2 separate regions of the Homo sapiens genome follow, and region 2 is linked to region 1. The links come from fine-mapping of genetic effects on plasma protein levels. A gene starts in region 1. The other region holds a variant in brackets. All regions are shown on one strand. Distances are from middle to middle. Region 1 holds the start of ATRN (attractin). Region 2 overlaps ATRN (attractin).

What was found. PIP is the posterior inclusion probability: the model's chance that the variant is causal. The UK Biobank Pharma Proteomics Project read protein levels with antibody pairs (Olink). The fine-mapping took linkage between variants from a reference panel, not from the people measured, so its PIPs are less certain.
Region 2: its variant is fine-mapped to the plasma level of the ATRN protein (UK Biobank, PIP above 0.99).

The regions. Positions count from the first base shown.
Region 1 is chr20:3,458,940-3,473,499 of GRCh38, forward strand. It overlaps ATRN (attractin), which reads left to right and starts at 12,079. Exons shown (of 29, transcript NM_139321.3): 1 at 12,079-12,578. The coding sequence starts at 12,169. It also overlaps the pseudogene TCEAL9P1. RefSeq lists an enhancer at 11,666-11,805 and a silencer at 11,906-12,465.
Region 2 is chr20:3,521,661-3,537,515 of GRCh38, forward strand. It overlaps ATRN (attractin), which reads left to right. Exons shown (of 29, transcript NM_139321.3): 2 at 13,593-13,676. Among named protein-coding and RNA genes, the nearest start is that of ATRN, 59 kb to the left of the region's middle. The variant A/C (reference allele first, on the strand shown) is at 7,292.

The sequences.
Region 1 (14,560 bases):
GGAGCAATTTTGTTCTGGAGGAGTTGAGCATGTTTCTAACGCCCTGTACTGTTTACTTACCCCCCAAGAGCCACCCTACATCGGGCATAATTGTAATTCGGGAGAGTTTCTTTAAAACATAAAATCATTTATTTATTTATTTATTTATTTATTTATTTATTTATTTATTTATTTAGAGACAGAGTCTCACTCTGTCCCCCTGGCTGGAGTGCAGTGGTGCGATCTTGGCCCCCTGCAACCACTACCTCCCAGGTTCAAGCGTTTCTCATGCCTCAGCCTCACGAGTAGCTGGGATTACAGGCTCCCACCACCATACCCAGCTAATTTTTGTATTTTTAGTAGAGATGGGATTTCATCATGTTGGCCAGGCTGGTCTTGAGCTCCTGGCCTCAAGTGATCTGCCCACCTCGGCCTCTCAAAGTGCTGGGATTACAGGTGTGAGCCACCGCGCCTGACCCACAACATGAAATCAATATCTAGGTGCAGATTTCAAACAATATAGAGAATTGGTTTGTGAGAATGACATCATTCAGTTGGAACAAAGTCCAGCTTTGGCAGCCCTGTTGGGAAAGGTAGATCTGGCATCTACCTGTGTGGAAAGCAGAGAGGATGCTGTCTGGAAAGAATGCTGGTGTGTGTGTGTGTGTGCGTGTGTGTGTGTGTGTGTGTGTGTGTGTGTGTGTGGCAGGAGGCTCTCGGCTCATACACTCTTTGTGACTATAGGGGAGGCTGGGCTTGACTTCTTGCCATCAGGCTCCTGAATCTCCAGAGATCTTGCGGAACTTTCCACATGAAAAAAACACCAAAAAACAAAAAATGACAGCCTCCCTTAAAATGCATATGGGAGACAGGGACTGTTGTCTGGGGACCCAGACTATGGCCACAGCCACAGACTTCAAAGCTGCCTCAAGCCTAGGACTCCAGCTTGTGGACATCTTGCAGGTCTGCTTTCTGTCCTCTTTGAACCTTGTCCACAATCAGTGCCCTTGGCCCTGCCTTGCTTGGGTTCATAGCTAAACTCTCCCTGTTCCTTGAGCCATTTTTGATATGCCAATCTGGCTGCAGTCTGTTTAACTTGGTAAACACTGTAATCTGGGCTATACCTCTAGTCACAGGCTTTTGGTCAGCTAGTTCTGCACACAGGGTTATGTGCCACCCTTCCCCCATCTTGGGGTTCCTGCCACAGTCACAGTGCAAGTGAACGCAAGAACCACTTCACCATAAAAAAGGCTGCTTCACTGCCAGTGGCTTCTCAGATAATGGGAGTTGGTGCCAGTGGCTTTGGCAGCAACATGAGATAGGGACCTCTGTGCAGGCATCAGAGGCCTTGATCACAACCTTGGCAGTGGTCTGTATCAGGGCCTTGAGTAAGCATGAGAAACAGAGATGGTGCTTTTGGTGGTGCCAGGACAATGTGCTTTGTTCTTTTTTTTGTTTTATTTTTTTGAGATGGAGTTTCACTCTTGTTGCCCAGGCTGGAGTGCAGTGATATGATCTCGGCTCACTGCAACCTCCACCTCCTGGGTTCAAGCAATTCTTTTTTTTTTTTTTTTTGAGACGGAGTCTTGCTCTGTTGCCAGGCTGGAGTGCAGTGGCACAATCTCGGCTCACTGCAAACTCCGCCTCCCGGGTTCACGCCATTCTCCTGCCTCAGCCTCCTGAGTAGCTGGGACTACAGGTTCCCGCCACCACGCCCGGCTCATTTTTTGTATTTTTGGTAGAGATGGGGTTTCACCATGTTAGCCAGGATGGTCTCGATCTCCTGACCTTGTGATCAGCCCGCCTCGCCCTCCCAAAGTGCTGGGATTACAGGCGTAAGCCACCGCGCCCTGCCGGGTTCAAGCAATTCTTGTGCCTCAGCCTCCCAAGGAGCTGGGATTATAGGCGCACGCTGCCATGCCTGGCTAATTTTTTGTATCTTCAGTAGAGTTGGGGTTTTGCCATGTTGGGCATTGCTTGTCTCAAATTCCTGACCTCAGGTGATCCGCCTGCCTCGTCCTCCCAAAGTGCTGGGATTACAGGCGTGAACTACTGCACCCGGCCAATTTCTTTAGTTAACAATTAGAATACTTATCTGTTCTTATTAGGAAAAAAACCAATGTCTTCCTCTTGAGACCCTCTCTTTTCTACTGAATAAACCCAAGAAATCTGGGGCTTATTAAGTCTAAAACAGCCAGTCCAGCTTCCAAACAAGTCAGCCAAGCCCAGGTTGTGTATCTAACTTGTGAAAAACAGGTCACCTGGAGGGGACACTGTCTGAGAGCCACCTCACATCTACATGGAGATGGCGCAAAGGAATGTTGCCAGTTGTGGCAACCGTGAAAATTCATCGTTCAGCTCTCCTGCCGTGGGGAGCGGAGTTGACTGGCAGCCCCAGCTGCTCCCCCTCCGGGTCCCCCACTGCGTTTGTGCTACTGCAGGCTGATTCCTGCAAGATGCTGCTGCTCTGACAGACAACTCTGGCTCCAGGACTCCCCACTGGCCTGGGAGAGCCTTCATTGAAACTGCACTGACATCTGACACTCTTCTTAACCAATCTTTTCTTCCCGCTTTCCTTCACAGCTGTCAGATTTTTATTCCTGTCTGAATCCTCTCTTGCCATTTCCTGTTTGCTTCCGCTTTATCCTTCACAGACATTTCCCCCAGTAAAGCCCTTGTATGTCTAATTTGGTTTTGGCATCTGTTTCTCAGTAGACCTCCCAGGCGTACATGGTGCTGGAGCTGGTTCCCACTGGCTTGTGAGGGCTGAGCCTATGTCTCTCTTTCCGATTCCACACTCAGTGACATCATGATGGGAGCTCGAAATAGGTCATGGTGGGAGTATTTACAACATAGAAATCAACTAGTGCTATGCATGAAGGCTTTTTCTTCTCAGTGAGCTGGTTGCTAAACATTTATGAGCAAACCTCTGGTATCTACCCAATAGAAATGTATGTATACTCACCAAAATACCTGTATTTGATTTCCAGATGATCATAGCATCATGATTCATAGTAATCTCAAACTGGAAACTGCCCAAATGTCCAGCAAGAGAATTAATCAATAAATTGTCATATCATGATGTGTGTATATAAGTTTCTATTTTATTTTTTTTAGACAAGGTTTCCCTCTGTCGCTCAGGCTAGGGTGCAGTGGTGTGATCACTGCAGCCTCAAACTCCTGGTCTCAAGTGATCCTCGTGGCTCAGCCTGTCAAGTAGCTTGGACTACTGGTGCATGCCACCATACTCTGCTAATTTTTATTTTTACTTTTGAGACAGCTTCTTGCTCTGTTGCTCAGGCTAGAGTGCAGTGGTACGATCATGGCTCACTGCAGCCTCGATCTCCTGGGCTCCAGAAATCCTCCTCTTTAGCGTCCTAAGTAGCTGGGACTACAGGTATGCACCATCGTGCCTGGCTAATTTAAAACAATTTTTCTTTTGTAAAGACAGGAGTCTTGCTATTGTCGCCTAGGTTGGTCACAAACTCCTGGCCTCAAGCCATCCTCCTGCCTTGGCCTACCAAAGCATTAGGGTTACAGCTGTGAGTCACCACGCTCGGCCCATAGTACTTTTTTTTTTTTTTGAGACAGAGCCCTGCTCTGTCGCCCAGGCTGGATTGCAGTGGAGCAATCTTGGCTCACTGCAACCTCTGCTTCCTGGGTTCAAGCAATTCTCCTGCCTCAGCCTCCCAAGTAGCTGAGGTTACAGGCACCCGCCACCATGGCCAGCTAATTTTTGTATTTTAGTAGAGATGAGTTTTCGCCATGTTTGCCAGGCTGGTCTCAAACTCCTGACCTCAGGTGATCTGCCTGCTTCGGCCTCCCAAAGTGCTGGGATTACAGGCATGAACCAGTGTACCCGGCCCCATTGTATGTTTATACCACGTTTTGTTTACCCATTCATCTATCTACAGACACCTGAGTTGCTTCCACCTCCTGGCTCTTGTGAATAATGTTACAATAAACATGGAAATACACCTATCTCTTCAAAATCCTGCTTTCAATTATTTGGGAAATATACCCAGAAGTGAACAGCTGGATCAAATGGTAATTCTATTTTTAACTTGTTGAGGAGCCCCCATACTGTTTTTCATAGTGGCTGCACCATTTTATATTACCACTAACAGTGCACAAGGGTTCCAATTTCTCTACATCCTCACCAACACTTGTTATTGTCTGTTTGTCTGACTTCTTTGTTTTTAGAGATGGGGGTCTTGCCATGTTGTTGCTCAGGCTGGCCTCAAACTCCTGGGCTCAAGCAATCCTCCTGTGTTCGCCTTACGAATAGCTGGACTACAGGCACACACCACCACACCACCATGCCAGTATTGTCTGTTTTTTGTGTGTGTTTGTTTTTTTTTTTTTTTGAGACAGAGTTTCTCTCTCTTGTCGCCTAGGTTGGAGTGTAATGGCGCGATCTCAGCTCACTGCAACCTCCGCCTCCCGGGTTCAAACGAGTCTCCTGCCTCAGTCTGCTGAGTAGCTGGGATTACAGGCATGCGCCACCACACCCAGCTAATTTTTGTATTTTTACTAGAGATGAAGTTTTGCCACGTTGGCCAGGCTGGTCTCGGACTCCTGACCTCAGGTGATCCACCCACCTCAGCCTCTCAAAGTGCTGGGATTACAGGGGTGAGCCACCATGCCCGGCCTGTTTTTTTTTCCTTTTCTTCTTCTTTTATTTTAAATACAAGCTATTCTAATGGCATGAGGAAAGAGAGGAATTTTGATATCCTTTTTCATTTCTGCCTCCCAGAGCATAGATCAGTGTCTGGTATACAGCAGCCACTCAAAAAATATAAGTTGCTTAAATGAATACATTGAGTGAATTGACTACCTGTGTAGTGTGTGAAGTGGGCTGAATGGTGGCTCCCCCAAAAGATTTGTCCATGTTCTAATCCTTGGAACCTCTGGATGTTACTGTATTTGGAAAAAAAGGTCTTTGCAAATGTTGCCAGGCACGTTGGCTCATGCCTGTAATCCTAGCACTTTGCAGGCCAAGGCGGTAGGATCACCTGAGGTCAGGAGTTCGAGACTAGCCTGGCCAACATGTGAAACCCCGTCTCTACTAAAAAAAATACAAAAATTAGCTGGGCGTGGTGACGGTTACCTGTAGTCCCAGCTACTTGGGAGGCTGAGGCATGAAAATCGCTTGAACCCAGGAGGCAGAGGTTACAGTGAGCCAAGATCATGCCATTTGCATTCCAGCCTGGGCAACAGAGTGAGACTCTGTCTCAAAAAAAAAAAAAAAAAAAAAAAGGCTTTGCGAATGTAATTAATTAAGGAGCTTGAGGTGAGTTCATCCTGGATCATCCAGGTGGGCCCTAAATCCAATAAATGTCCTTATAGGAGATACACACAGAAGACGGACATAGAGGGGAGGTGACGTGAAGGTGGAGGCAGATATGGGATTTGTGACCACGAGCCAAGGAAGCCAAGGAATGTGGACAGCCACCAGGAGCTGGAACAGGCAGGGAAGGGTTCTTCCCTAGAGTCTCCAGAAGCCTAGCCTGCTGATACCCTGATTTCAGACTTCTGGTCTCCAGAACTGTGAGAGAATACATTTCTGTAGGTTGGTTTTTGTTGTTGTTTTAAAACTTTTATTGTTTTTAGCAATAATCATGTGTGTTCATTTTAGGAATATGGAATACACAAGTAAGCAGATAAAAAAAATCTTTTATAATCCTCTGTGGAGAGATTGTACCTTTTGTCTTTCACCCTTCACGAGTTTTTATGTGCATATATGTGATATCCAAATGTACTCTTACCTTTCAAAAATGTTATTCACAATTGGGCATGGTGGTATGTGCCTGTAGTCCCAGCTACTGGGAAGGCTGAGGCAGGAGGATCGCTTCAGCCCAGGAGTTTGAGGCTGTAGTATGCGATTATCACATCTGTGAATAGACACAGCACTTCAGCCCGGGCAACGTAGCAAGACCCTGTCCCTAAAAACTAAAAAATTAAAATGATATTAACATATTACTTAGTAACCCTTTTTTCATTTTATATCCTATCAGGAACCTCTTTTTTTTTTTTTTTTTTTTTTTTACAAATGAGTAAATCTCTTCTATAAAAGAGATTTGAAGATTGGTTCAAATATGGTAAACAATGAGATATGGGTAAATGATGCATCTGAAGCCACTAACAGCAACAGGTTAAAAGTAGAAAGATGGACAAAGGTATATCAGAAAAATGCTAATAAAAAGAAAGTTATATAGCATTGTTAATATCACATAAAATAAAAATAAAAGTAAATTGCATTAAATAGGGGCAAGGATGGTTTTGATCAATTTTCCAGTACATCCCTATAAGTTTGTTTCTTACTCTCCTTATCTCGTCTATTTCATCCACTTCTCTAAACATATCTTCATTGCTTAAATGCCTCTTATGTACATCTTTATATTCTGGAGAGATGGAATTAGCTTTCTCTAAAAGTTCCTTCTGCATTTTCCTCCTCCTCTGGCTTTTCCTCAAAATTTGGTTCACTATTTTCTGGCCTTCCTTCCATTTTTGGACAGGGTTTCATCTCATGTCTGTGGGGCTTCTCTTTCTTCCTTCTATTCTTTCTTTCTTTTTCCTTCCTTCCTTTTGTTTTCCTTTCTTCCCTCTTTCCTTTCTTTTTTCCTGCTTATTCCCCTTTGAGTGCAATAACTTCTGGCACTGATCAGGTAAGTTTCTTTCTCCTCTTTGTCTAGCCTTGCATTGTGCTAAGAACAACAGACCTGCAAAATTCTCACAAGTTGACTCTTCCCTTCGTTGGCCCCCAGCACCTTGGCCAACACTGCTGAAGGAAGCTGGTACCCAGGTGGGAACAAGAACCAGACTAGTAGGACTTCTGCACTGTCAACTTTTAAATTTCTGTGGTTTTATGCCACCAAGTTTGTGGAAATTTATTATAGCAGTCACAGGAAACTAATATGTCATCTGTAATTAGGAGAAATTATAAGGGATTTTAATCCAAAAGGATGGCTTCAGTTTGGGAACTTCTAATTTGAAGTACTTCATGGCCATATTTAGCAAAGTCATTTGTCTTTTAACAGTAGTACTGTTTTCATAGTATCTTATCTATACACAAGAGAAAATTTTTGTTCTCTGTTGTAGAAATTTGGGGGAGGGGGCATGAATCTAGCTCATCCAATAGAAATTTCAAGTCTTCTGCCTTTAAATTGATGTGCTCATCCCAGTGCAGCGTCTTGTCCCTTGAGCTGACATAAAGGTGAACTCCTGTACTTGTGGGACTTGTCTGAGGAGGCCACCAGGAGCTCTGCCAACAGCTCAGAGGTATAACTTTATGCTCCCAGATCAGGGACTCCTAAACACTTTCTCTTACAGTCTGCCAAGGACTATTGGAATCTTATTGCTGGTTGGTTGACAGTGGGATATCCATTGGAGCTTTCAATGGCACTTTATTCCTACCTAGAACCCTCTCAGTTGTGTTTGTTCCAAACCTTCAGGATCAACCTCTTTCACAGGCAACGTAGTACCTTACCTTCTAGGTGAGATTTTAACACCTATAATTAGAGAATTGCTTGGTCACACATTGACTAAAAGTATAAGGATAACTTTGGGACAATAAAATGTATCGATGTTTCAAACAGTGCAGAATGAGGACCGGTGATGTTTGCGGGAAAGTCAGATGGTCAATCAGATCTTACTTGAGCAGTATTCAATCTTTGCTTTCTAGTAGGTATTTGATAAACAAACATTTGTTATATGTATTACACATACATGGAGCTATCTATTTGTATCTATTGGTACCCCTCCCAAATTTCCTTTATAGGATCCTTCTTACTGCTGTGAATGTTGTCTGCTGAAAGAGATGTGTGTACAAAATGCTGCTCCCTTACCTCAAAGTGGAATCAATTCTATGGTACAATTCATGCTCTAGGGCTCTCCATAGGATCAGGCTGAAGCTCAACTCTAGATAAGACCAGACCACATCTTTTCTCAACCCCCTCCTGGGCTCTATCTTGCTTCCTTCACTGTGTTTCTTCCGAGAGCAATCTTCCAATGAATTATGCACTCAGATCCTGTTTCAGGGTTCTGCTTCTAGGGAATCTGACCAAAGACACTGCATGAGTAAAAGCCAAAAATTATAAAATCCATCTATGTCCATGACTTGGAGACAATGCAAGCAAAGAAACAGGAAGAGATGACATGAAATCAGAGAAAGGGCCAAGGTGAGTAAGATGCCTTACTTAAGTGAAAAAGAATAGGCATAGGCACCTTCAAACCATCCTGCACTAACCTAGTGGAGACAAACCCTTTTGGTCATGCAGTTGGCAAGAACAATGTTATTTTAGTGTCTGGACTTAGAGTAATTTGTATCAAAGCCTGGGTATTCTTTGCCACTGGCATTACAGTTTCTGGGACCTGGAAATGACCACCATGACAAAGACCAGTGGAAAAAAAGGGATTTCAGGCAGAACTGCTGCAGAATCTTGCTGATAAGGCACTGGGGTACAACAGAGGCACTTCTGAAGCTACGGTGACTACGGTGACCTCCTTCATGAGAAGCAACTGGACAATGATACTAGTGTATTACATATAGATGACTAGTTGTAGATTATACATTTATATACAATTATACTGTCGTTCTTAATTCTTAATCAAGTCCACATCACAAGACTTATTCTTGTCCTTGGAGGAACCAGGGTACAGAGTATTCTGGTAATTTATTATTGTGTAACGAACTGTCCCCAGTTGGCTCATTTATTTGCTTATGTATCTGCAGTTTGGGGCGGGTTCAGCAGGAACAACACCCCCCTGCTTCATGATTGGGGCCCCAACTGGGAAGACTTGAATGGCTGGGGGCTGGCTTCCTCACAGCATGGTGGTCTCAGGGTAGCTGGACATCTTTTATGGCAAGTGTTCCAAGACACTTCAGGAGGAAGCTGCAAGACTTCTTATGACCTAGCATAAAGTCCCATTTCTGGGACCTCAGAAATCCCAGTACATCACTTCCACCATAGTCTATCAGTCAAGCAAATCACTAAGGCCAGGCTAGATTCAGAGTGGGGTGGGGGTGGGGGTGGGGGTGGGGCCGGGGCCAAGGGTTAGACCTGATCTCTCCATAGAAGGAATGTAAGAGAATTTGCAGCCATCTTTAATCTATCACACAGACATAGAATGTGTAGGGGACTTTTTGATAAACGCAGTAAAGGAAAAAGAAGATAGCAGGTAAGATTTTGTTTCTTTGTTTATTTGTTTTTAGAGACAGGGTCTTGATCTGTTGCCCAGGCTGGAGTGCAGTGGTCCAAACATAGCTTACTGCAGCCTCAAACTCCTGGGCTCTGTGATCCCCCTGCCCCAGCCTCCCAAGTAGCTGGGACTACACATGCACGCCACCACATCTGACTAATTTTTTAAAAAATTTTTTGTAGAGACAAGGTCTCACTATGTTGTCCAGGCTGGTCTCAAACTCCTGGCCTCAGGTGATCCTCCCACCTTGGCCTCCCAAAGCACTGGGATTACAGGCATGAGCCACTGCACCCAGCGTGTTTGTTTTTTAAGGACAAAATAATTTGAGCATGTTTGAAAGCTAAGGAAAAAGAACCAGAGAAGAGAGTAGATTAAGGAAGTAAGAAAGAATGTTTGCTGCAGCAAGATTCTAAGGCTTCAGAGTAGCAATATCTAGTCTAGGGATTGCTGTTCTTCAGATGCACACCTTTTCTGTTATCCCTGAATGTTGGTAAAATCATGTGAAACTTCACAGTGTGGGTTCAGTCTTGCTGTGGGGAGGGAAGGGAAGGAAAGGGCTGGTTCACTTCTGGCCTGGAAGATTAGGGGGAGCAATGTCTCCTACAGCTAGGGCATGGCCTATGCCAGCCTCCCCATCTGATGGGGTCCTGCCAGAGGGTAGGGCCATGTCTTCAATTTCAAAATCCTACATGGCAAAAACATAACCTGCAAACCAGAATGTCAGTGCTAGGGCCTAGGCCGAACAATAGTTTTCCTGTAGGAATGGGGAGTATGTGTGGATGTAGAGCTGGGGGTAAGGCTTTTGTGCAATTCAGCTTCACCAGGCTTGAAGAAGATGCAGTGAGGACAGTCAGGACCTGAGTATGAGAGTGGGACCTGGGTATGAGTGTGGAAATCCATCTTAGAACCTTAAAATTCCATACTCTGAGGTAAAGCTGAGAGGCTCCACAGGTCTATGAGGGTTTTTCTTTGTTTCCCAGGGACTGTAAGGTGCCCAGATTCTGAGGTAGGTGCCATAGGAATATTCCTCATAGCACAAGCATTATGTCGGACAATGTTCTGCTTATCTATTACTGAGTAACAAACCTCTCTAAAACTTAGAGGCTTAAAATAACATAAATCATAATTTATGAAAAATTATAAATAATTCATCACTTAAGGGTTAAATGATAAATGAGTTATTTCTTAGGATTTTGGATAAGTCACAGTTAGGAAAGACCTGTTACTGTTGTAGGTAACATGGAACAGCCCAGACGGTTGGAATAACCCAACCCAGATAGCTTCTTCACTCAATGACTGATCCCTTAGCTAGGATGGCTCCACCAGCTGAGCGGCCCAGCTCTCCCTCTCCAAGTCCAAGTGGTCTCTGCACATGGTTTCTCTCCAGCAAGGTGGCTAACGGGGTGCAGCTCATGACCACCAACAGCTCAAAATCAAGGCTGCCAGGTCTTTTTTTTTTTTTGAGACAGAGTCTCGCTCTGTCCCCCAGGCTGGAGTGCAGTGGCGCGATCACGACTCTCTGCAACCTCTGCCTCCTGGATTCAAGCGACTCTCCTGAGTAGCTGGGATTACAGGTGTGTGCCACCACGCCCGGCTAATTTTTGTATTTTTTGTAGAGACAGGGTTTCACCACGTCGATCAGGGTGGTCTCGAACTTCTGACCTCGTGATCTGCCCGCCTCGGCCTCCCAAGGTGCTGGGATTACAGACGTGAGCCACCGTGCCCGGCCAAGGCTGCCAGGTCTTTTTTAAGCTCAGAGCTAGAAACAAGACATTGCTACTCCTACCAACTTCTTCTATTGGTGAAATTGAGTCATGGTTTCTCATGGTCTCAATCATGACCCAGCCCAGATTCCAGGGTCAAGGACCATAAAAGGCTACATTGATGGAAGACATGTCTCATTGAGGGACACCAGAGTAACAACTACCAGACAAGAAGGGGCAGGTCTGTGTGAGCGCCATTTCCTAATTCTATATTGCCCACTCTTCAGAGAAGATGGTTGGAGGGCAAATTGTGGGGAGCAAGGTAACTCCAAACTTTTACAGAATTAAAGGTAGGGGGTCTGGTCAGCTACAGTCCATCTGTTATCAAGAGGCCTGGCTGTGTGTCTTCATTCAGTTTATTAGGCATTTACTGAGCACAGCCTACATGCCAGGTTCTTCATTTTTTGACACAGGGTCTTGTGTTGCCCAGGCTGGAGTGCAGTGCTGCGACTGCGGCTCACTGCAGCCTTGACCTCTCCAGACTCAAGCGATCCTCCTGCCTCAGCCTCTGGAGTAGCTGGGGATACAGGCGCGCACCACCATGCTCGGCTAATTTTTGTATTTTTAGTAGAGACAGTGTCTCACCCTGTTGGCCAGGCTGGTCTCGGATCCCAGAGATCAAGTGATCCGCCTGCCTCAGTTTCCCAAAGTGCTGGGATTACAGGCGTAAGCCTCCGCGCCCGGCCTATGCCAGGTTCTACATGTGTTCTTTCTTGACTCTTGTGTTACAGAGGCTCGAATGAAGCCTGGCTTCTACAGTACCGCACCCAGCACCTCGCTGCGATGCAGCCTCCTGTACCCTTTCCGTCCGGCAGCTGGAGTTAGGGCAGAGTGCCGGGTCTCTAGGAGGGCAACACTCAACGCAGTCGGCTCCTAGGCATCCAGTGGGGCTGCAACCCCGCCGCCGGGGACGAAAGGCGAAGGGGGAAAACTAGAGCTTTCGCCGGCCGGGACAGCGCAGCCGGGTTTCAGCTCGTTCTACGGTCCACGTCAGAAGATCGCCTCCGGCGCCGCGGACGCCGGAGACCACTGTCTGCGCCCCCGCACGCACGCACCCACGTACTCGCGCACGCGCGCGCCGGCCCCGCCCACCGCCCCGCTGTGGCCCCTTTGGACCGCACGAGCCACCGTCCGCACAGCCCCGCCCCGCACGGCCAGGCGAAGCGGAGCCGGCCGTGCGGTGTGTGTGTATGTGTTCGCGGGGCGCCGTCTCAGCCCCGGGAAGATGGTGGCTGCAGCGGCGGCAACTGAGGCAAGGCTGAGGAGGAGGACGGCGGCGACGGCAGCGCTCGCGGGCAGGAGCGGCGGGCCGCACTGGGACTGGGACGTGACCAGGGCTGGGAGGCCGGGGCTGGGGGCCGGGCTGCGCCTCCCGCGGCTGCTGTCTCCACCGCTGCGGCCACGGCTGCTGCTGCTGCTGTTGTTGCTCTCGCCGCCGCTGCTGCTGCTGCTGCTGCCCTGTGAGGCCGAGGCCGCGGCGGCGGCGGCGGCGGTGTCGGGCTCAGCCGCAGCCGAGGCCAAGGAATGTGACCGGCCCTGTGTCAACGGCGGTCGCTGCAACCCTGGCACCGGCCAGTGCGTCTGCCCCGCCGGCTGGGTGGGCGAGCAATGCCAGCACTGCGGGGGCCGCTTCAGGTGAGTGGCGGGTGGTGTCGGAGGGTCGGGTCCAACCAGAGGCTGGGGCTGAGGGGCGTTCGAGACGGCTCCAGGTCAGAGGGAGATGCTGGACAGAAAGTGGAGAGGGTAGGGCCGCCCTATGGGGTTTGAGGGCCATTTGCTTCCGGGGAGATCATCGTCTCTGGCCTGGGGTCTTTCTCTGTTGGAAGGTGAAAAGGTGTGGGGCAAGGGTGGGGGCACCCCGACGGTATTTGGGTGCTTAGGTTAGTTAGATGGGAAGAATGCTGAGGGACCCAAAGAGCATCAAAGCCGATCGCTCTAAAACTCGGCGTGTTTCAGCTAAACGAGGTATCCAAGGAAAGGTGGTCGAGCCAGGTTTGCTTGAACACTTCCTTTTAACATCCACATGTGCCCTAGGACCCGATGAGTTCCCCGATGCACTGGAGATGTGGGGTGCTCTGAAGAAACAGGGCCCTGGAAATGCTTTGTTGGCTGGAGATAAAAGGGAAAGGGTAGCATTGTAAGATATTAGGGATAGAAGGACCAGTGGTCCTTCTAAAGGAAAGTGAGGAAACTAGCCTTTTGGCAAAAGCTCCCTGGAGGTGGCAAATTGGAATAGGGTCTGTGGTGAAGAGGGAATGGAAGGAGATTCCTATTTGCCTTGGTTTCTGGACAATATGAAGTTCTGAATTGGCTTAGTTTGGGGCAGTTCCTCTTGGAGAAATCAATAAATTAATTAGCAGTTATCGTTATTTGCTTCAGTTGTGCAATGATTTTCCAGATAATACAGACAGATTAGCCAGACTTTGGCCTTGTCCACAGGGAGTTTGGAATATAGCAAGAGAAAGATAATGTGCGCACATAACCCTAGTCATAAGGGTTACAGAGTCATTCACGCCTTTGACAGGTATTTAGCTTACTGAACACATGTCTGATGTGGGGGAGTGGGGAAATGTGAACAAGACAGACAGGGCCTCTGCTCTCATTGACCTTAACATTCTAGTGGGAGCAACAGGCACTTAACAAGTAAATAAATGAGAGAAATAAACATGGTAATTTCAGGTAATGGTAAATGCTATCAAGAAAATAAAAACAGCGTGGTCTGATAGAGAATTATAACCGGTGGTGACTCTTGGAGAGGGTTCTCATTTGAAATGACATTTGATCTGAGACCTGAATGAGGCAACAGGGAACTTGTGGGAATTCAGGGATGGAGAGGTTGTGGCTAGCTGGAGGGATGCAAGGAGGACTTTGAGGAGGCGGTAACATTGGATTTGAGCATGTAAGGTTAAGTAGGATTTGGAAATGTGGAGCTGGAAAAAAATTACAGATGGAAAGAAGGGTGCAAACAAAGTTGTGGAGGCTGGAAAGTAAAGTTTTGCTGCTGCCTATGTGGAAGAGAGTTGTGAGAGAGGAGTTTGGAATAGCAAAATTGTAGACTTAGGTAATATTAGGTCTTCTGAGGAACTCAGAGAACGTTGAGCAGATGAGCTCTTTAGTTTTATGGATGGAGAAACCAAGTTACTTCAGGACCACTGATGCAGTGAAGCTGCTTTTGTAACTTAGGGTGTTCTGATTTATGAATTCCATTAACCTACATGTATTTGTTGAGGGCTCCTATGTTTTAGGTTGTGAGATACAGTGGTATACAAGACAGGCACAGTCCTGCTCTTACGGAGCTCACATTTCAGCTTGGGAGTAAAAAAATCCAACAAAAATTTTATTGTAATTTTGTTTAAGGCTGTGGAGGTAAAGAGCAGGAGACAAACAGAGGACTTGACTTAGTCTAGGGGTAAGGTAAGTCACTGAGGAAGCGATGTGAAGTCTGAGGGGTGAGATGGTACTACCTGCGTGAGGGGTGGGGTGCTGAGGGGCCAGCAGGTACAGAGGCTTGGGGTTGAAGCGGATGGAAGGCCAGGTGGCAGGAGCAGAGAGAGCAAAGGGGAGCTTGGCAAGACTGGAGAGAAAGGCGGGAAGCCAGGCCAAGTGGAGATCTGTGG
Region 2 (15,855 bases), 63 kb after region 1:
GAGAACATGATACATATCAACTGCAGATTACACATTGAAGTGCCCTTGGAACATTCAGTAAAATAGACTATATGCTGGATAATAGAACAAGTCTCAATACATTTAAAAGATTTGAAACCATATGTCATGTGTTCTGTTTTGAAGACAGGGTCTCGCTTGCTCTGTCACCCAGGCTGAAGTGTTGGGATTGTAGCTCACTGCAGCCTCTATCTCTGGGCTCAAATGATTCTCTCACCTCAGCCTCCTGAGTAGCTGGGACTACAGGTACACTCTACCACATTCAGCTAATTTTTTTTTTTTTTAATTTTTAGTAGAGATGAGGTCTCACTATGTTGCCTAGGCTGGTCTTAAATTCCTGGCCTCAAGTGATTCATCCACTTTGGCCTCCCAAAATGCTAGGGTTATAGACGTGAGCCAGAGTTTCTGTGGAATTGCAATAGAAATCATTAACAAAAAGATAACTAGAAAAATTCCCCCAAACATTTGGAAATTAAGCAACATCTAAATTACACATAGGTCAAAGGAGAAATAAGGGAAATTAGAAAAACATTTTGGAATGAATGAAAGTGTAAACACAGTCTGTTACATTTGTGGAATGCAGCTAAAGCAGTATATAGAGAGGAATTTGTACCTGCAAAAGTTTTTATTAGAAAAGAGAAAAGATGTAAATGTTCTAAATTTCCATAGCCAGACTACCTCTCTAGATTCCTTCTCTCTGGGCAGGGCATCTCTGAAAGAAAGGCAGCATCCCCAGTCAGGGGCTTATAGATAAAACTCCCATCTTCCTGGGACAGAGCACCTGGGGGAATGGGCATCTGTGGGCACAGCTTCAGCTGACTTAAACATTCCTGCCTGCCGGCTCTGAAGAGAGCAGCAGATCTCCCAGCACACCACTCGAGCTCTGCTAAGGGACAGACTGCCTCCTCAAGTGGGTCCCTGACCCCCGTGCCTCCTGACTAGGAGACACCTCCCATCAGGGGTCGACAGACAGCTCATACAGGAGAGCTCCAGCTGACATCTGGTGGATACCCCTCTGGGATGAAGCTTCCAGAGGAAGGAACAGGTGGTAATCTTTGCTGATCTGCAGCCTCCAGTGGTGATACCCAGGCAAATAGGGTCTGGAGTGGACCTCCAGCAAACTCCAGCAGACCTGCAGCAGAGGGGCCTGTTAGAACAAAAACTAACAAACAGAAAGGAATAGGATCACCATCAACAAAAAGGACGTCCATACAGAAACCCCATCCAAAGGTCACCAACATCAAAGACCAAAGGTAGATAAATCCACGAAGATAAAGAAAAACCAGCGCAAAAAGGCTGAAAATTCCAAAAACAAGAACGCCTCTTCTTCTCCAGAGGATCACAACTCCTCGCCAGCAAGGGAACAAAACTGGATGGAGAATGAGTTTGATGAATTAACAGAAGTAGGCTTCAGAAGGTGGGTAATAACAAACTCCTCCAAGCTAAAGAAGCATGTTCTAACCCAATGCAAGGAAGCTAAGAACCTTGAAAAAAGGTTAGGGCAATTGCTAACTAGAATAACCAGTTTAGAGAAGAATGTGAAAGAGCTGATGGAGCTGAAAAACAAAGCACAAGAACTTTGTGAAGCATACACAAGTATCAATAGCCAAATCGATCAAGCAGAAGAAAGCATATCAGAGATTGAAGATCAACTTAATGAAATAAAGCATGAAGACAAGATTAGAGAAAAAAGAATGAAAAAGGAACAAACAAAGCCTCCAAGAAATATGGGACTATGTGAAAAGACCAAACCTGCGTTTGATTGGTGTACCTGAAAGTGATGGGGAGAATGGAACCAAGTTGGAAAACACTCTTCAGGATATTTTCCAGGAGAACTTCCCCAACCTAGCAAGACAGGCCAACATTCAAATTCAGGAAATACAGAGAACACCACAAAGATACTCCTTGAGAAGAGCAACCCCAAGACATATAATCGTCAGATTCACCAAGGTTGAAATGAAGGAAAAAGTGTTAAGGGCAGCCAGAGAGAAAGACTGAGTTACCCTCAAAGGGTAGCCTATCAGACTAACAGCAGATCTCTCAGCAGAAACCCTACAAGCCAGAAGAGAGTGGGGGCCAATATTCAACATTCTTAAAGAAAAGAATTTTCAACCCAGAATTTCATATCCAGCCAAACTAAGCTTCATAAGTGAAGGAGAAATAAAATTATTTACAGACAAGCAATTGCTGAGATATTTTGTCATCACCAGGCCTGCCTTACAAGAGCTCCTGAAGGAAGCTCTAAATATGGAAAGGAAAACCAGTACCAGCCACTGTAAAAACATACCAAATTGTAAAGACCATTGACACTATGAAGAAACTGCATCAACTAATGGGCAAAATAACCAGCTAGCATCATAATGACAAGATCAGATTCACACATAACAATATTAGCCTTAAGTGTAAATGCCCCAATTAAAAGACACAGACTGACAAATTGGATAAAGAGTCAAGACCCATCGGTGTGCTGTATTTAGGAGACCCAACTCATGTGCAAAGACACACATAGGCTCAAAACAAAGGGATGGAGGAGTATTTACCAAGCAAATGGAAGCCAAAAAAAAAAAAAAAGCAGGGGTTGCAATCCTAGTATCTGATAAAACAGACTTCAAACCAACAAAGATCAAAAAAGACAAAGAAGGACATTACATAATGTTAAAGAGATCAATGCAACAAGAAGAGCTAGCTATGCTAAATATATATGCACCCAATACAGGAGCACCCAGATTCGTAAAGCAAGTCTTTAGAGACCTACAAAGACACTTACACTCCCACGCAATAATAGTGGGAGACTTTAACACCCCACTGTCAATATCAGACAGATCAATGAGACAGAAAATTAACAAGGATATTCAGGACTTGAACTCAGCTCTGGACCAACAGGACCTAATAGACATCTACCGAACTCTCCACCCCCAAGCAACAGAATATACATTCTTCTCAGCACCACATGGCACTTGTCCTAAAATTGACCACATAATTGGAAGTAAAACACTCCTCAGCAAATGCAAAAGAATAGAAATCATAACGTCCCTCAGACCACAGTGCAATCAAATTAGAACTCAGGATTAAGAAACTCAGAACTGCACAACTACATGGAAACTGAACAACCTTCTCCTGAATGACTACTGGGTAAATAACGAAATTAAGGCAGAAATAAATAAGTTCTTTGAAACCAGTGAGAACAAAGACACGACATACCAGAATCTCTGGGACGCAGCCAAAGCAGTGTTTAGAGGGAAATTTATAGCACTAAATGCCCACAGGAGAAAGCAGGAAAGATCTAAAATCGACACCCTAACATCACAGTTAAAAGAACTAGAGAAGCAAGAGCAAACAAATTCAAAAGCTAGCAGACAAGAAATAATTAAGATCAGAGCAGAACTAAAGGAGATAGAGACATGAAAAACCCTTCAAAAAATCAGTGAATCCAGGAGCTGTTTTTTGAAAAGATTAAGAAAATAGACTGCTAGCTTGACTAACAAAGAAGAAAAGAGAGAAGAATCAAATAGACACAATAAAAAATGATAAAGGGGATATCACCACTGATCCCAAAGAAATAGAAACTGCCATCAGAGAATACTATAAACAACTCTACGCAAATAAACTAGAAAATCTAGAAGAAATGGATACATTCCTGAACACATACACCCTCCCAAGACTAAACGAGGGAAAAGTTGAATCCCTGAACAGACTAATAACGAGTTCTGAAATTGAGGCAGTAATTGATAGCCTATCAACCAAAAAAAAGCCCAGGCCCAGACAGATTCACAGCCGAATTCTACCAGAGGTACAAAGAGGAGCTGGTACCATTCCTTCTGAAACAATTCCAAACGACAGAAAAAGAGGGACTTCCCCCTAACTCATTTGATGAGGCCAGCATCATCCTGACACCAAAACCTGGCAGAGACACAACAAAAAAAGAAAATTTCAGGCCAATATCCTTGATAAGCATCGATGCGAGAATCCTCAATAAAATACTGGCACACCGAATCCAGCAGCACATCTAAAAGCTTATCCACCACAATCGAGTTGGCTTCATCCCTGGGATGCAAGATGGGTTCAACATAACGGAAATCAATAAACGTAATCCATCACATAAACAGAACCAATGACAAAAACACATGATTATCTCAATAGATGCAGAAAAGGCCTTCAATAAAATTCAACAGCTCTTCATGCTAAAAACTCTAAATAAACTAGGTATTGGTGGAACTTATCTCAAGATAATAAGAGCTATGTATGACAGACCCACAGCCAATATCATACTGAATGGGAAAAAGCTGGAACCATTCCCTTTGAAAACTGGCACAAGACAAGGATGCCCTCTCTCACCACTCCTATTCAACCTAATATGGAAGTTTTGGCCAGGGCAATCAGACAAGAGAAAGAAATAAAGGGTATTCAAGTAGGAAGAGAGAAAGTCAAATTATCTCTGTTTGCAGATGACATGATTGTATATTTAGAAAGCCCCATCGTCTCAGCCCCAAATCTCCTTAAGCTGATAAGCAACTTCAGCAAAGTCTCAGGATACAAAATCAGTGTGCAAAAATCACAAGCATTCCTATACATCAATAATAGACTGTGCAAAAATTACAAGCACTCCTATACATAATAATAGACAAACTCATGAGAGCCAAATAACGAGTGAACTCCCATTCACAATTGCTACAAAGAGAATAAAATACCTAGGAATCCAACTTACAAGGGATGTGAAGGACCTCTTCAAGAACTACAAACCACTGCTCAAGGAAATAAGAGAGGACACAAATGGAAAACATTCCATGCTCATGGATAGGAAGAGTCAATATAGTGAAAATGGCCATATTGCTGAAAGTAATTTATAGATTCAATACTATCCCCATCAAGCTACCATTGACTTTCTTCACAGAATTAGAAAAAACTACTTTAAATTTCATATGGAGCCAAAAAAGAGCCCATATAACCAAGACAGCCCCAAGCAAAAAGAACAAAGCTGGAGGCATCTTGCTACCTGACTTCAAACTATACTACAAGGCTACAGTAACCAAAACAGCATGATACCAAAACAGATATATAGACCAATGGAACAGAACAGAGGCCTCAGAAATAACGCCACACATCTGCAACCATCTGATCTTTGAGAAACCTGACAAAAACAAACAATGGGGAAAGGATTCCCTATTTAATAAATGGTGTCGGGAAAACTGGCTAGCCATATGCAGAAAACTGAAACTGGACCCCTTCCTTATACCTTATACAAAAATTAATTGAAGATGGATTAAAGACTTAAACGTAAGACCTAAAACCATAAAAACCCTAGAAGAAAACCTAGGCAATACCATTCAGGAGATAGGTATGGGCAAAGACTTCATGACTAAAACACCAAAGGCAAAGGCAACAAAAGCCAAAATTGACAAATGGGATCTAATTAAACTAAAGAGCTTCTGCACAGCAAAAGAAACTATCATCAGAGTGAACAGGCAACCTACAGAATGGGAGAAAATTTTTGCAATCTATCCATCTGACAAAGGACTAATACCCAGAATCTACAAAGACCAAATTTACAAGAAAAAAAGCAAACAACCCCATCAAAAAGTGGGCAAAGGATATGAACAGACACTTCTCAAAAGAAGACATTTATGCAGCCAAAAAACATGAAAAAAAGTTAATCATCACTGGTCATTAGAGAAATGCAAGTCAAAACCACAATGAGATACCATCTCCCACCAGTTAGAACGGTGATCATTAAAAAGGCAGGAAACAACAGATGCTGGAGAGGATGTGGAGAAATAGGAACGCTTTTACACTGTTGGTAGGAGTGTAAATAAGTTCAATCATTGTGGAAGACAGTGGGGTGACTCAAGGTTCTAGAACCAGAAATACCATTTGACCCAGCAATCCCATTACTGGGTGTATACCCAAAGGATTATAAATCATTCTGCTGTAAAGACACATGCACACATATGTTTATTGCAGCACTACTCACAATAGCAAAGACTTGGAACCAACCCAAATGCCCATCGATGATAGACTGGATAAAGAAAATGTGGCACATATACACCATGGAATACTGTGCAGCCATAGAAACAAATGAGTTCATGTCCTTTGCAGGGACATGATGAGGCTGGAAACCACCATTCTCAGCAAACTATCACAGGAACAAAACCAAACATTGCATGTTTTCACTCATAAGTGGGAGTTGAACAGTTAGAACACATGAACACAGGGAGGGGAACATCGCATACTGGGGCCTGTTGGGAGGGTGGGGGGCTAGGGGAGGGACAGCATTAGGAGAAATACCTAATGTAGATGACGGCTTGATGGGTGCGGCAAACCACCATGGCACGTGTGTACCTGTGTAACAAACCTACATGTTCTGCACATGTATCCCAGAACTTAAAGTATAAAAACAAACAAAAAAACCAGAAGGCCGGGCGTGGTGGCTCACACCTGTAATCCCAGCATTTTGGGATGCTGAGGTGGGTAGATCACGAGATCAGGAGTTCAAACCAGCCTGGCCAAGATGGTGAAACCCCGTCTCTACTAAAAATAGAAAAATTAGCCGGGCATGGTGGTGGGCGCCTGTAATCCCAGCTACTCAGGAGGCTGAGGCAGAGAATTGCTGGAACCCAGGAGGCGGAGGTTGCAGTTGACCGAGATTGCGCCATTGCACTCCAGCCTGGGCAACAGGGCGAAACTCCGTCTCAAAAAAAAAAAATGTGGTACATATACTCCGTGGAATACTACCACCTGTAAAAATGAATGCAGTTGTGTCCTTTGAGCAGCATGGATGCAGGGAGGCCATTATTCTAAGTGAATTAATGCAGTAACAGAAAACCAAATACCACATACTCTCACTTACAAGTAGGAACTAATCATTGAGTACACATGGACACAAGGGAGCAACAGACACCGGGACCTGCTTGAGGGTGGAGAGTGGGAGGAGAGTAAGGATTGAAAAACTGCCTTTCAGGTATTACGCTGATTACTTGGGTGATGGAATTATCTGTACATCAAACCCCTGTGAAACCTGCACATGGACCCCTTGAACCTAAAATAAAAGTTAGAAAAAAGGGCAAAAATAATAACAAGCACATTACAAAATAATATGTGCAGATGATCAGTAAACACCAGAAAGGGTACTCAGAATCTTTTTTATCTTATTTTTTTGAGACAGTTTCTCCCTCTGTCATCCAAGCTGCAGTACAGTGGCACCATCTTGGCTCATGGCAACCTCTGCTTCCTGGGCTCAAGCAATCCTTCTACCTTAACCTCCCAAGTAGCTGGGACT[A/C]CAGGCGCATACCACCACACTTGGCTAAGTTTTTTGTGTTTTTGTAGAGACTAGGTTTCACTATGTTGCTTAGGCTGGTCTTGAACTCCTGGGCTTAAATGATCCACCTGCCTTGGCCTCCCAAAGTGCTGAGATTATAGACATAAGCCACTGTGCCCAGCCTCTGAAAATCTTTAAATATCAGAAAAATACAAATTTATACCATAATGAGATAGAATAGTGCATACCTACTGGAATAAGCAATAAAAAGTCTGATTATACCAAATGTGGGAACTGATGTGGAATAAGTAGAACTCTCATATCTTGAAAATGTGATTGTAAGGTGGAAACAGTTTGGCAGTTTCTTAAAAATTTAAGTGCATATCTATACTTTAATCCAGTGATTTCATTTTGTATATTTATTCAAGAGAAATGTAGATACCTGTCCACAGAAAGATTTATACGTGTCTTAACTTCATTTATAAAAGCCTATAATTACGTAATCCAAGTGTCCACCAATAAACAAGTTGTGTATTTTCATACAAGAGAATACTACTCAGCAGTGTGAAGGAGCAAACTATTGATACAATACTTAGAAAAGTTATGTTGATAAAAAGAAGCAAGACACAAAAGTGTCTTTGATTCCATTAAGTCAAATTCTGTAAAACTGATCTATAGTGGGAAAGATAAGATCAATGTTTGAGGTGGAGGTTGGGAGAGATTACCTGGAGAGGGATATAAGAGAGCTTTTGGGGGTGAGGAAACTGTTTTATATCCTGTTTGAGGAGATTACACTTTGTGTATACATTTGTCAAAGCTTATCAAATTGTACACATCAGTGGCTGCATTTTATTATATGTAAATTACTTTTCACTAAGATTGATTAAAGATTTGGTTGGAAGGAATCAAATTGGTATAGCAGTCACTAAACTAAATGCAAACAGATTATATATTGTGGCAGTAAAATACTGTCAGGTTAGTTTAAGAAACAAAACCTAACCAAGTCCTGTTTCGAAGAAGCAAACTATTGAAAACTTGATAAGTAAAGCTGAAAATAAAAGAGTTGAATAAAGATGTAAGATACAGGAAAATAACCAAAAGATCAATAATTATAATAATATTAGACAAGGTGAAATTTAAATATCAAACTAGGTAAGTGGATTGTTAACATCATAAAAGGCATATTTTATGAAAATCCAATAGCCATAATCTTGTATGGCTAAAAAGCTTAACACATAAAGCAAAAATAATCTGAGTAGTGTGGTAGAGCAGGCATGGTATGAGATTTATATATATATATAATATATATATTAAAAAATTATATATTATATATATATGTTTTTTTCTTTTGGAGACAGAGTTTTGCTCTTTCTCCCAGGCTGGAGTGAAGTGGTGCGATCTCAGCTCACTGCAGCCTCTGCCCCACAGGTTCAAGCGATTCTCCTCCCTCAGCCTCCCGAGTAGCTGGGATTATAGGCACTTGCCACCATGCCTGGCTAATTTTTTTTTCTTTTTTTTTTTTGTATTTTTAGTAGAGATGGGTTTTTGCCACGTTGGCTAGGCTGGTCTCAAACTCCCGACCTCGTGATCCACCCACCTCAGCCTCCCAAAGTGCTGGGGATTACAGGTGTGAGCCACTACGCCTGGCCAGGATTTCAGTACATGTTTATCAGAATTAGGTCTAGTAGATGAAAATACGAGTATAAGGAATTGAATAGTGCATTTAATAATCTTAATCATATGTGTATAGAAATAGTGTTTTAAATTCCTGGAATAGATCTTTTTTTAATGTCCAAGGAACTGTGGTCAAAGTTTAATGTCCAAGGTACTTGACCATAAAGAAAATCTTAACAGATGAGAAAAGTTGAGATTTTATAGGCTGCGTTGTCTGGTAATAATACTGGTAAAGTAGAAAGAAATAACTATGAGACGAGTCCTTTGAAACCTGCCTCCTGTTCCCCTATTCTCCCTATATTTGTTTCCACTGCAGAATTACCTCAGTATTCTTGAACTAAGAAATTGGTGGTGGCAAGGTCTTTATTCTTCATATTTTAGCCTTACATTATTGAAATGCCTTTCAGTTTGATGCCTTTGTGTGACTGCCAGTGAACTAGGTTTTCCTAGTGTACAGGTGTTGCCCATGCCCACACCTAGATTATCAATGATACTGTAAAACTTGACCTGAAATTTTAGGTTGATATTCCTGGCCTTTCTCTTTCAAATTCCTTTAAACTTTTAGTAACCACTTGTTGGCCATTTATTAGAACACAGGGAATTTTGAATTAAAAACTCACATAATTTAAAAGAAACAGGAACACCTAGTGCTGAGAGGATGTGGGGAATAGCATATTCTCATACATTGCTGGTGCAAATGTGAATTGTTACAGCCTTTTGGAAAATAATTTGACAGCTTGGTTAACAATTAAAATTCATATTCCTTTTGGCCTAGTATACCTCCTCCTAAGATTTCTACTCTTAGACATAAAAGCCCAAGTAAGGCCATATGTATAGGGATATTTATTGCAGTGATGTGCATATTGTCAGTCAACTGAAAACAAAATGAACATTAGTAGGGAAAGGCAGGAAAAAGTGATACCTCCATAGGTGGGATACTATGCTACATAAAGAAAAAATAAATTAGACTAATACCAGATTAGTTTGAGAAATTTCCGTAAGGTTTTGTTGAGTGAGCAAAGAAAGATGCAGAAAAGTATATAATAATTTGTGTAACCAAAAAATAATTTAAGAGAACCATGCCTATATCATAGGCTCATGAGTATGAAGAAAAGTATTTAAGAATTCCTGGTAGGTGGTTAAATGTTTACCTTGGTCAAGGGTGGGTCAGAGTAACTGGGGAAGTGGGTTAAAACAACAACAACAACAACAACAACAAGATTCGTCTGTGATCATATCTATGCATTATCTGTAAAATTATATAAATATGTATGTTTAAAGATACTAAGTAAACATTTAAAATAAAACTGACCTGTTTCCCAGCCTGGACAACATAGCAAGACTCATCTCTAAAAAACAAAATTAATTAAAATAAATTAGCTAGGCATAGTGGTGTGTGCCTGTAGTCTCAGCTACTCCAGAGGCTTTGGTAGGAGGATCACCTAAGCCCAGGAGTTTGAGGCTGGAGTGAGCCATTGAGCTTGCCACTGCACTCCAGCCTGGGTGTCAGTGTGAGATTCTGTCTCAAAAACAAAAAACAAAAAACACAAATATTTGTTTTATAAAACTGATGCTGATTTGCAAACCTAAGTGTTCACGTGAAGTCCACTGAAACTCTTAGGAGCAGAAGCAGCATAGTGGAGAGCCATAAAACCTTTTATATTAGGCCCCAAGACAAAGAATCAAGGAAGTGTGTACACACACACGGAATAAAACAATAACCAGTGGGAAATTTACCTAAGAAACTAGAAGCCTAGAGTAAGGTGGTTTTTGTGGGTGGTTGATACTGTTTTTCAGGGACTTTGCATTCCTTTGATTTGTCATTCTTGGTGTTGGCTTTGTGTTCAGGCATAGCACAGGCGTTGTGTTCAGGCTGTAGTACTTCCAGCTGTAAAATCCAGCTATAGCAAAGTCCAGATAGAGAAGAATGGTCTCTTCTTGGATGTTTATCATAGGTTGTTTTTTAAAAAGCATTTGCTAAGGCTGAGTTTGGGTTACAACTTGATTATAGTATTGTAGAGGAAGGTGTTATTGGAAGGAAAAGCATAATTAGGCAAAGGAAGAAGTTGAGCTCCAATGCAGGCCTGACAAAGGGGAACTGTGGGGGCAGGATTGCTTATTTGAGTTGTCCCATGTTGGATTGAAATGCTTGGGCCTTTATACTCTTTTTTTTTTTGAGACAGAGTCTCACTCTGTCGCCCAGGCTGGAGTGCAGTGGCGCGATCTTGGCTCACTGCAAGCTCTGCCTCCTGGGTTCACGCTATTCTCCTGCCTCAACCTCCCGAGTAGCTGGGACTACAGGCGCCCACCACCACGCCCAGCTAATTTTTTGTAATTTTAGTAGAGACGGGGTTTCACTGTGTTAGCCAGGATGGTCTCGATCTCCTGACCTCGTGATCCACCCGCCTTGGCCTCCCAAAGTGCTGGGATTACAGGCGTGAGCCACCACGCCCAGCCTATGGTATGGGCCTCTTCATGGTGTGGGCTGCCATGGGAAGGGCATGACCTGTAGCAAGGCAGCCCCTGAAGGAATTGATGTTCTGCTGACCACATTCCCTGCTGCTGCTGGCAGCAAGTCCTTCCTTGAAGAGGAGATCTAGGTGGCATGTCTCCCTGTCCACACACTTTCCTAAGAATAAGAAAATATTTCCTGGAAATCATCCATCAGATGTGCCCTCACATCTAAGTATTAGATTACATTCTGTGTCAGAGATTCATGGTTACACATCATAGCCTTTTTCTACTTCTCTAGTAAAAAGAATTCTGATTTTTTGATGGGTACATGATCATCTGGGATAACGGCTGCATTTTTCAGCCTTCCTCTACTTGTAGACATGTCAGTAACTTCTGGCTAATCGAATGTAAGTTGAATTTTCATGTGTGACTTAACAGAGGGAGAGAGGGTGTACCCCCCCGTTTTCTTTTCCTCCTTCCTGCTGGGTAGAATTTGGGTATAATAGCTGGAGCTTGAGCCGCTATCTTGGATTATGAGGTAGAAGCCACATGTTGGGGATGACAGAGCAATAGTATAGAACAGCATTAGGTCCCTGATGATCATGGAAATGCATTGCATGCTCTGGATTGCTTATCTTTGGGTTTTTTTTATCTTGGTGGTTAGTCCATTACTATTTAGGTTTTTCTGACAGTTGCATTAAAGCCTAATCTTTTTTCTACATCTATATCTATATATGATGTATATCTATATCTATATAGATACATATTCTTTTTTAAAAATAGATATGAGGGTGTTGCTGTGTTGGCCAGCCTGATCTTGAACTCATGGCCTCAAGCAGTCCTCCTGCCTCAGCCTCCAAACTGCTGTGATTTCAGGCAAGAGCCACCATGCCTGGTCCACACCTAATTTTAATTGATACAGATTTCTAATCAGTCAGTGGCAAGGGGCATGGGAAAACATGATTGGCTTCGACTAACATTTTGGGGTGGAATGGATTTTGGGGAGTAGGGCATGGATACATCTCTATCAGGCAAGTACAGCAGAGGAAGAGAAAGGCAAGAACATCAGGGAGTTTGCAGGATATGATTCTCGTGATGGATTATGGAGTCTTAACTAGGTATGTGAGAAAATGAAATGTGTGGATGGTAGGTGGTGAACAGTGAAGAAATGATAGTTCAATGGATTGGTGGTCTCCATGGGGCCAAAGTCTCATTGGAAAGGGGGAATAAACTGGAGAGATGAGATAGTAGTCAGAGGTCAGGGTGCTTTTTTTGTGGTAATGTTGTTACTGGTAATAGCAAGGGCCAGAGAAGGGGATGGCTAAAGAGGGGTGGAGGAAAAGATAGTTAATGGTGAGGTTAAGAAATGGAGAGACTGGATTTTGGATGGAACATCTTAGATGTTGATGCAGATGAGTGGAAGAGAGTGAACGATTTGTTAATATCTTTAGTGCATTAGGAGTAGCTGGGAGATGACTCAGAAGGTAAGGGAGGCAGATCCAGAAGCGAGCATGTGTTCAGAGTGGCTGATGTTAATGAAAGAGGGAAGAAAAATATCTGGAAACAGCCATGATGAAGGAAATAGCGTCCTTCTTAAATATTAAACATTTTTATATAGTAACAGATACTTGCTGGTGGCAGTGCTCATGCCTGTAAACCCAGCATTTTGGGAGGCCAAGATAGGAGGATTGCTTGAGGCCAGAAGTTCAAGCGTGGGCAACATCGTGAGACTCTGTTTCTACAAAAAATAAATTTAAGAAATTTATCGCTGGGTGTGAGGGCTCAAGCCTGTAATTCTGGTGCTTTGGGAAGCCGAGATGGGAGGATCTTTTGAGGCCAGGAATTTGAGACCAGCGTGGGCAACATAGCGAGACCTGTCTTTACCAAAAGGAAAAAGGATGACATAAAATTAAGATAAGATTTAGGTATGTTTTGTTCATTCCTGTTGGTTTTAATATTTTTCTGTCTTCTTTTTTAATGTATGCAATAAGTATTTGTTTCATCTAAATTTATGCAATCTGAATATAACTAGTCATTTTCTACTGGTTATAGTGTTTGTTAATGTACCCATTATGTTTAATTTGTATTATATTAAGAATTAAGAAATATTAATATATGAAAATATATAAAATATATAAAAATATATGAAATTAATATAGCAGACTTAAGTTTTCTTTCTTGATTTAAATTACAGACTAACTGGATCTTCTGGGTTTGTGACAGATGGACCTGGAAATTATAAATACAAAACGAAGTGCACGTGGCTCATTGAAGGACAGTAAGTAGAAATGGCTGACTTAATTTTTGTTTTTTTAGCATAGAAGTCAGTGTGACATTAGTTTTCCCACAAGTAAAATTAACAATCTGTAGCATAAAGTTCTTAAAACATTACTTGATAACCTTTCATTTGACAAGTGAATTTTATCTTAGCCTTCATTAATTTAAAAGTTTCATGTTGATTTAATGCTGCAAATGAATTGTACACACCACAAATTTGTGTATTTCCAACTGTAATAGTTCAGAAACGGTTACACACACACACACACACACACACACACACACACACACATATATATTTATTTATTTTTATGGGACAGAGTTTTGCTCTTGTCACCCAGGCTGGAGTGCAGTGGCGTGATCTCCGCTCACTGCAACCTCCGCCTCCCAGGTTCAAGCGATTCTCCTGACTCAGCTCCTGAGCAGCTAGGATTACAGGTGCATGCCACCACGCCAGGCTAATTTTGTATTTTTAGTAGAGAAGGGGTTTCACCATGTTAACCAGGATGGTCTCGAACTCCTGACCTCAAGTGATCCGCTCGCCTCAGCCTTCCAAAGTGCTGGGATTACAGGTGTGAGCCACTGCGCCCAGCCACGGTTCCATATTTTTAATGGTTTGCTTAAAGCATTAGAAAATTGCAATATTGTGTTATTTTTCTAAGTATCTATTTTTGTTGTGGATAAGAAAATTGTAATAACTGTTATTGCCTAAATGATCCCTTCTCTGGACCCACTGTGTCCCTCTGGCTGTTGGCCTTTTTTCTCCTTGTCTTCATGGGAGACTTTTAAAGCAGTACTTCTCAGACTTTTTTGGTCTCAGGACCTCTTTACACTTTTAAACTTTGAGGATTCCAAATAAGTTTATTTATTATTTATTTATTTATTTATTTTGAGATGTCATCTCGCTCTGTGGCCCAGGCTGGAGTGCAGTGGTGTGATCTTGGCTCACTGCAACGTCTGCCTCCTGGGTTCAAGCGATTCTCCTGCCTCAGCCTTCCAAGTAGCTGGGATTACAGGCATGTGCCACCATGCCCAGCTAAGTTTTTGTATCTTGTAGTAGAGACAGGGTTTCACCATGTTGGCCAGGCTGGTCTCGAACTCCTGACCTCAAGTGATCCGCCTGCCTTGGCCACACAAAGTGCTGGGATTACAGGAGTGAGCCACTGCACCCGGCCCCAAATAAGTTTATGTTTTTCTATTTGTGTTCACCATATTAGAACTTACAACCAAGAAATATTATTTATTCATTTAAAAGCAACAATTATAAGCCATGTTAGTACAAATGATATTTTAATGAAAAAAACCCTATATTTAAAAAATTGTAGTGAAAAAATGGCATTGTTTTACATTTTTGCAAATCTCTTTAATGTGTAGCTTAATAAAAGACAGCTGGATTGTCATATCTTCTGCATTCACTTTGTTGCAGTATGTTATTGTGGTTGAAGCGTGTCAAGAAGATGAGGCCTCACTTGAATATGAAGTAGGAAAAAAGAGATTTTAATAGTACAGTATTTTAAAATTATTGTATATAGTCTTCTTTGATACCATATCAAAACTTAACAAGTAGTAATTTCTTAAAAGTAAATTGCAGTATGGAATCTGAAACTATGTTAAGGAACTTTTGGTACTTGTTAAATTAAAATCCATTGGTTTTCTTGCACTGAATGGATCTTTTGCCCATCCATATTTTGGTAACATGATATATAGGTCATTTGGAAAACAACAGGTCATTGAATTATGCAGATCTTCCATATGTTGATATATTTATTCCATTACATAATATTTTAAAAATCACATTGGTTAGTATCCCCATCAATCTCCTCAAAAAGTTCTAAGTATGGCAGTTAACAAATTTTCCAAAATTCTAATTACTACTTGAAAGCTTGTATTTTATCTTTGGCAGCAAATACTGTCAGTTGTTTTCTTTGAAGTGGCAGGCTTGCTTTCCTCATTTTTAAGAAAATGTCTGCCAGATATCCAACTCTGAATAACCGTAGTTTATTGATTGTTCTTTCAAGTAAACATGGTAAATGGTGTTCTAAGAAAAAAGTAGCTAGTTCAGCTAGCAACTTAAACAGTTGCAAAAGTGGTTTTCATTGAGAAAACCACTGTGCTTCTATTAAGCAAAAGAAGTGTTTTATATATTTTTTTCTTGTTTTTTTTTTTACATTTTTTTATTT